2 linked regions of the Homo sapiens genome follow. The protein of the gene in region 1 purifies or fractionates together with the protein of each later gene. This does not show direct contact. Each region holds a gene or a part of one and is shown on either strand. Other genes may lie near its edges.

The links. The genes of interacting proteins can lie anywhere in the genome.
Region 2: the proteins of DAZAP1 (region 1) and AASDHPPT fractionate together in Homo sapiens (co-fractionation; one large-scale study listed by BioGRID). This does not show direct contact.

What each region holds. Positions count from the first base shown.
Region 1 is NC_000019.10:1,406,321-1,410,416, reverse strand, and holds the start of DAZAP1 (DAZ-associated protein 1), read right to left. Parts: upstream 2,832-4,096; 5' UTR 2,644-2,831; coding exon 2,615-2,643; intron 2,533-2,614; exon of another isoform or gene 796-2,532; coding exon of another isoform or gene 338-795; intron 1-337. UniProt on the Homo sapiens protein: RNA-binding protein, which may be required during spermatogenesis.
Region 2 is NC_000011.10:106,096,848-106,099,224, reverse strand, and holds the end of AASDHPPT (L-aminoadipate-semialdehyde dehydrogenase-phosphopantetheinyl transferase), read right to left. Parts: coding exon 2,318-2,377; 3' UTR 530-2,317; downstream 1-529. UniProt on the Homo sapiens protein: Catalyzes the post-translational modification of target proteins by phosphopantetheine.

The DNA of each region.
Region 1 (4,096 bases):
CCCTTCACAAGAGGACCAGGACAGGCCCCGCTCCCAAAGGAGGACACTGTCCATCACATCCACCATGTAGGGTCCGCGTGCCAAACCCACCAGGATCCAGAGAGGGACTCCCCACACCCCACCACACGTATGCGCTTCCTCCTGCATGAAGCCCCCCTCAAGCTGACTGGAAGTCGGTGTGTGTAAGGCATCCGTTATCACCGGCAGGCCTCAGCTGACTTTCATCCCCCATCAAGCTTTACATGGACTTCTAAGCCAGCACAGGGACCCTCAAAACTTGGGACGACTTCTCAGACTCAAAAGCAGAGCTTCCCCCAAGGATGGCTCCCTAACCCACCTTCCAGGTGTGGATTCCCAGGGCAGCAGCTGGACGGCCACAAGTGTCCCAGAACAGGGGGCTCCCAAGCTCCAAGTCTCCTGAGGCGTTGACCCCGCACCCATGCATGCTCCAGGCCCAGCCCTCCAAGCGGGGTCCGGCGGGATCTCCTGCCTCCTCCATGGCAGTGAGCAGTGAGGGCTCTGCATCAGGAAGAGGGAGCTCCTCAGGCTGCCGAGCCCCCCCAGTGGGTAAGGGACACCGCAGACCCATGGCGTCCTGAGAGCCGCCATCTGCCGCAGAGAGGGCCTGCTTCCATCCAAGCTCAGCACCCTCCTGCATGGCACCCACCGCACCTGCAGGGGACTTGCCAGGAGGGCGCTTCGCAGGGTCACAAGCATTTCACGCACACAACAACTCCACACAGCAAGATCAGAGCAGACCGTGGACTCCGCATAGAATGGAAGCCGGTCTCCCATGCGACGGGCGGCTGTGGCAACACTTCTTGCCCAAGGAGTCTGACTTAGAAAGCAGTGGACACTCCTGGCAGCCGGGGAGGAGAGCAGGGTCCATGCACTCCAGTTCTCCTCCACGCAGCCCGTGGCGTCCGGGTGGCCTGCGAGCCTATTTGTGCTGTGGGTGGGACCCCTCCAGACCCAGGCTGGGACCCCAGCTGCCCCACTTCCCAAGGGTGTCCATGCAGGGAGGGGACAGGAGCCCTCACCTCTCTCCAGCCTCCTCACAGCCACGGCTTGGGTGGAGCGGGCCCACGTTCACCCGCGGCTTGAATGGACCTAATCCAGGTACCCCATCTGGGAGCCCTTTCCCTGCCTCACCCCAAAGTCGATGGCTCCATCCCCCATGGCCGGTGGACTCCCTGCTCAGGCCCATCCCTGCAATGTCCCTCACACAGGCACACGGACCCTGCCAAGTCAAAGTGCCTGGAGAGGACTCACAGCACGGGCTAGGCAGGGGCTAAGTGCTTTCATCCTGGTTCTCCAACGGAAGGTGCTCTTTTGTTTTGTCTGGGGAGGGGGAGAGCCCACAAAAGGCATTTCCCATCCACAAGTGTGACCTGTAGCTGGTGCGAGAGGCGCCTGCCAAGGCAACCCTCTAGCAGCAACCGCTCCCGCACTAGCCAAGCCCAGCGCTGAGAACACAGGGCGCTGCTCAAAGCTAAGGGCACCGAGAAATTTACACCAGACCACTAGGAAACCCAACCCAGACTGTTTTGCCGGAAGAATGCAACTCTAAAACGACGTCGCTGCGGCAGGAGCCGCTCCTACCAAAGAATGGCGCCGAGCCCTGGGGCACAGCGAAATGAGGTTTCCCGGCCCCGCGGGGTCCGGAGCAGGTCAGGCTCCTATAGGAGGGGACGCCTCGGCGCAGCAAAGATCCGCGGGCCCGTCGCCGCCTCGGAAGCGCTGACTCTCCCTTCCGCAGCTCAAGCCCACCCCCGGCGGGGAGGCGCCGAGGCAACGTAAACACAGCAGGCCCCGGCTGACCCGAGCCCCCTGGGCCCTGGGTTTGCGAACCCCTCCCGACCTTACCACTTTGGGGGGGTGGGATGGGAGCGGGGAGCCCGGAGCCCCGAGTGGGATAGGTTGGGCGGTGGCAGAACCGGAACCCTCGCCTCGGCTCGCCACGTGCGCCGCCCGCCAAGTTTGGGCGCGCGCTGGGGGCGCCCCGGACCACCCCCCACGCCACAGTTTGGGGTCCCCCTGGCCAGGAAGCCGGGAGGCGGCGGCGACGGCGCCCTGGACTCCCCGCAGACTCCCTCAGGTTCTCATTCGGGGTCCCCCAGGCCAGGAAGCCCTACAGGCGGCAACGGGGACGCTCCAGACCCCCCCAAGTTCCCGTTCGGGGCCGCCACAACCAGGAAGCGGCGGCGGGGGCCCCTGAACCCCTCTGGCTCCCATTCGGGGTCCCTCAGGACGCGCAGTCGGGAAGCGGCGGCACGGGCGCCCCAGGACACCCCCCCAGGTTGCCGTTCGGGGTTCCCCCGACCAGGAAGTCTGGAGGCGGCGGCGGGGCCCCCCGGACCCCTCAGGCTCTCCTTCAGGATCCCCCAGGACGGGAAGCCGGGAAGCGGCGGCGGGGGCGCCAGGACCCCCCCAGACCCCGGGCACCCGTCCAGGGCCCCCGGCGCGAAGCCGCGGCGAGTCCGGGTCCCGAGTCCGCCCCCGGCCGGCGTGACCTTGACGGGGCGGCCCCGGGGGGCGGCGTCTGAGGCCGGGCGGCGGGGAGCGGCGGGCCGGGCTCGGGGCGGAGACGCAGGCCCGCGCCGCTCGTCCTCACCCGATCTCGTCGGCGCCCGAGTTGTTCATGGCGGCGGCGGCGGCGACGCTCGGCGCTCCCGGGCCTCCTCGCTCGCTCCCGCCTCCGGAAGGTCACCCGCTCCGTCGCCCTCCCCACAGCCGCGGCCCGGATCTGCGCAACGGCGGCGGCGGCGGCGGCGGCGGCGGCGGCGGCGGCGGCGGCTGCCTCCTCCCCTCGGCGCCAACGGTCACCGCGCGTCCCCGCGCCGCCGCGCCGCCGCCCCTGCGCACGCCCGGGCGCGCTCCCGCACGGGGTCTCCGGGGGCGGGTCCAGGGGTACTCCGTCTGTGCGTGCGTCCCTGAGGCGGATTTCGCGCCGCCGCAGTCGGGGCCGTCGCGCGTTTTCCTTTCTCCTCGGAGGCTCCTGGCGTTGCCGCGGGGCACGCTGGGAAATGGAGTCCCTGCGCTGGCCCCGCCCCTGCAAGGGGAGGATGCGCGCGGGCCGAGCCACGTGCGTGCGTGCGCGCGCGTGCGGGCTTGCGTGCGCGTGCGCGCTTGCGAGACCGGCGCTCCGGGCTAGGCACTGTGGGCGCAGGCGCGGCTGCCGCTTCCTCTTTAACTCTTCACTCGGAAGCGGTGGAGCCGCGTGGGGCGCTGCGGGGAGTGGGAGTGTACCCGCCCGCACCCCAGGCGGGCGGACGGAGCGGGAACGGCACGTGAGCGTCCCGCGCGAGGCTCCTTCCCCTGTCCGCATTTCACAGAAGAGGATCCCGAGGGTCCGAGAGGCTGAGTCACTTGGCCAAGGTCACCCAGTTCGGGGCTGAACTGGAATCAAATCAAAACAATTAACTAAATTCAATGACTATGAAAAGATATTATTGACCCCCCCCCCAAGTGCTATTACTATTAATAGCCAAATACTGTTTTAGTTGCATCTGTTAATTGCATACATCAGTGGTTCTTCTTCTGGGTGACTTTGCCCCCTAGGGGATAACTTGGCAATGTCTGAAAACACGGTTTTGGTTGTCACAACTTGAGTGCGGGGTGCTGCTGGCATCGAGTGGGTCCAGACCAGACATGCCGCTCAGCACCCTGCAGTGCACACGACGACCCCCCAAAAAGAATGATACCCGTCCTCCAATGTCAGCAGAAGGAGGTGGAAAAACCGGTCTAGGCTGACGGTAGTAAACAGGTGACCCGCAGGGTTTTGTAAAACCGGGTACGTGCTGCCTACTGCTTTTCTCCTTAATCTCACAGCACATTGACAGCCTGATCGTTTGGTTTATTCATCATCACAGAATTAAATAAATACAAGGAACAAGGCCGGGTGAGGTGGCGCACGCCTATAATCCCAACACTTTGGGAGGCCGAGGATCAATTTAGGTCAGGAGATCGAGACCAGCCTAGCCAACATATATAGTGAAACCCCGTCTCTACTAAAAATACAAAAGAAAATTAGCCGGGCGTGGTGGTGGGCGCCTGTAATCCCAGCTACTCGGGAAGCTAAGGCCGGAGAAATGCT
Region 2 (2,377 bases), on another chromosome or scaffold:
CATATGGTAGAAATCTATGCAGTCAATTAACTAAAGGAAATAAGAAATTAGTATATGGTAAGGATAATACATCACTCAGCTGTATACAGCAGTTACATAATCTCAATAATGTACACATATCCTTAGTGTAATCACAGTCAACAATGTAAACATTGAATTGTTATGTTGGGAGGAGAAAAGGGGATAAAAAGGGAATGTGTAATGCTGGGAAGCAGAAGAGGGAAGCTTTATTTTGAAAATCAAAGAAACAATGCCTAAAATTAAAAAATCAAGTAAAAGCAATATAAGCATGTCATTTGGAGACATGGTAATAAATAACAAAAAAAATAACATCTAAAAGAGTTGAAAGGGCTTGCCCTGGAGACAGGAAATGGAAGAAGTCAGAGTAATGGCCTTTTTCCTTAGGAAAAAAATCTTACAGATCTATCCAATTTTTTAAAGCTGTGTACACATGAAACTTTGATTAAAAGTAATAGAAAAACTAAAAACTAAAAAACACAAATCCAACACAGTGTCAGGCTCATAGAAATTCCATAATAAATGTTCATTTTTTTATTATTATAATGACAAGACAAAGTTTTTCATATCACCATTACACTCATGCTAGGGATAACAATACTTCCTCTATTATAAATGCTACTTGACCTTTATTTACTATGCTTGGCATAACTGGGCATGCTTAATAAAATAAAAAAAAAAAACATTCAAATTTTTTTCTTTTACTAATCGAAGTACCTAATTTTATACAATTTGCACACTTTTAATGTTAGTAACAGAAACAATGAAATTATTTTACTTCTTGATACTTAAGAGTTTAACTCCAAGACATGCACTACAACCACATAATAGATTTTTGTCATCAATATGATGGTCCTGGCATCTTATATATTAAGTTCACACTTTAAATTAAGTACTACTTGCTAAAACGAAAACAGGTAAAAACAATGAACAGACGGTTCACGTTAAGAGGAATACGAAAAGCCAATAACAATACTGACATAACAATCTTATTTGTAATGAAAGAAATACAAATTTTAAAAATGACATACCATTTTTTAATTACATTGGCAAAAATTAAACCAAAAAGAATACCTACAATTGACCAAGGAGTATTCTGGCAGGGGGAGGGAAGTCACATACATATAGTACTAATTAGAGGGGTAAATTGTATAATTAAAGCCCTATGAACCAGTCAAACCAATCATTCCACTTTTAGAAACTTTCTCAAGGACATAATTAAGCATGTAACTCAAAATGTACAAGGACATTCACTCTGCCACTGCTTGTAGTAATAAACTGCAGATAATCAAAATGTCTAACACAGAAAAAAGTGAGTAAATTATGGTAAACCTTTCTTATGGGAAGGCAGTGGGCTTCCAATTCCATTCTTCACACCTAGCTTAGCTTCTTTCTTTTCAACAGAGTCTACTTCTAACAGAGACCAAAAATGTCAGACATTGCCTTTCTCTGTAACCTGATCTAAGTCAATGGAAACTGAGGGGAAATCTTCTGGAGGCTTTTGTTAAAAATCTTCCTCATGGATAAAACAAATGAGAGACGAAATGGCCTTTTCTGCCTTTGAGATACAATTTTACAAAGATGTAAAACTGGAAGTTATAGCAGCAGCTCTTGTGATCGAGAGGTGGAATAGCCTAAGGCAAAACAAACCAACTGAGGTCAAGGCAAAAAAAGTGTGTCTTTAATGACACCCCTGAACCCTGTGTTATGTCAAACAATTTCCTAGGTTACTTAGGCCAATTATATTTGGACACTGTTACCTCTGGCCAAAAGCATCCTAACTTGTATTAGCTATACAACAGAGTACATTAGAACCACAAAAAGTTATGTTACAGAGGTATATTTATGAACAGTAGATGTGCAGTTAAAAAGAATTTACAAAACAGTACGTTTCCATGTTTTTAAAAAAATCAAATATGTCAATATGGATTCATTTGCCAAGAAAAAGGTCTGAAAAGATACTCAAGGTTTTAAGAGTAGTTATCTTTGAAAGATAGCATTTAAATGTTTCCTTTTGCTTATGTGCATTTTCTATTTTTTTCTACAGTTAGCATGTATCACTTTAAGATTCCGCCATCCTTCCTATCAATTCAATGCAATTTAGGAAAGAAAGAGGTAAACATGTATTCCAGTGAGCTATCTTGAACCAGAAGTCTGCTTTTTTTTTTTAATTGGAAAAGTTTCTGTTCTTTAAAAAAACTTTCGTGAAATAAAATTTGATACTAAACAAGCATTTATTTTTCAGTGAATACGGAAGATCACAAACAGTTTTCATTTCCCTTTGTTACTCAGGGAATCATCATGACTTTGTACCATTTCGTATTGGAATTTCTTCTGTGAAGCAAAAACAGTCCCAAAA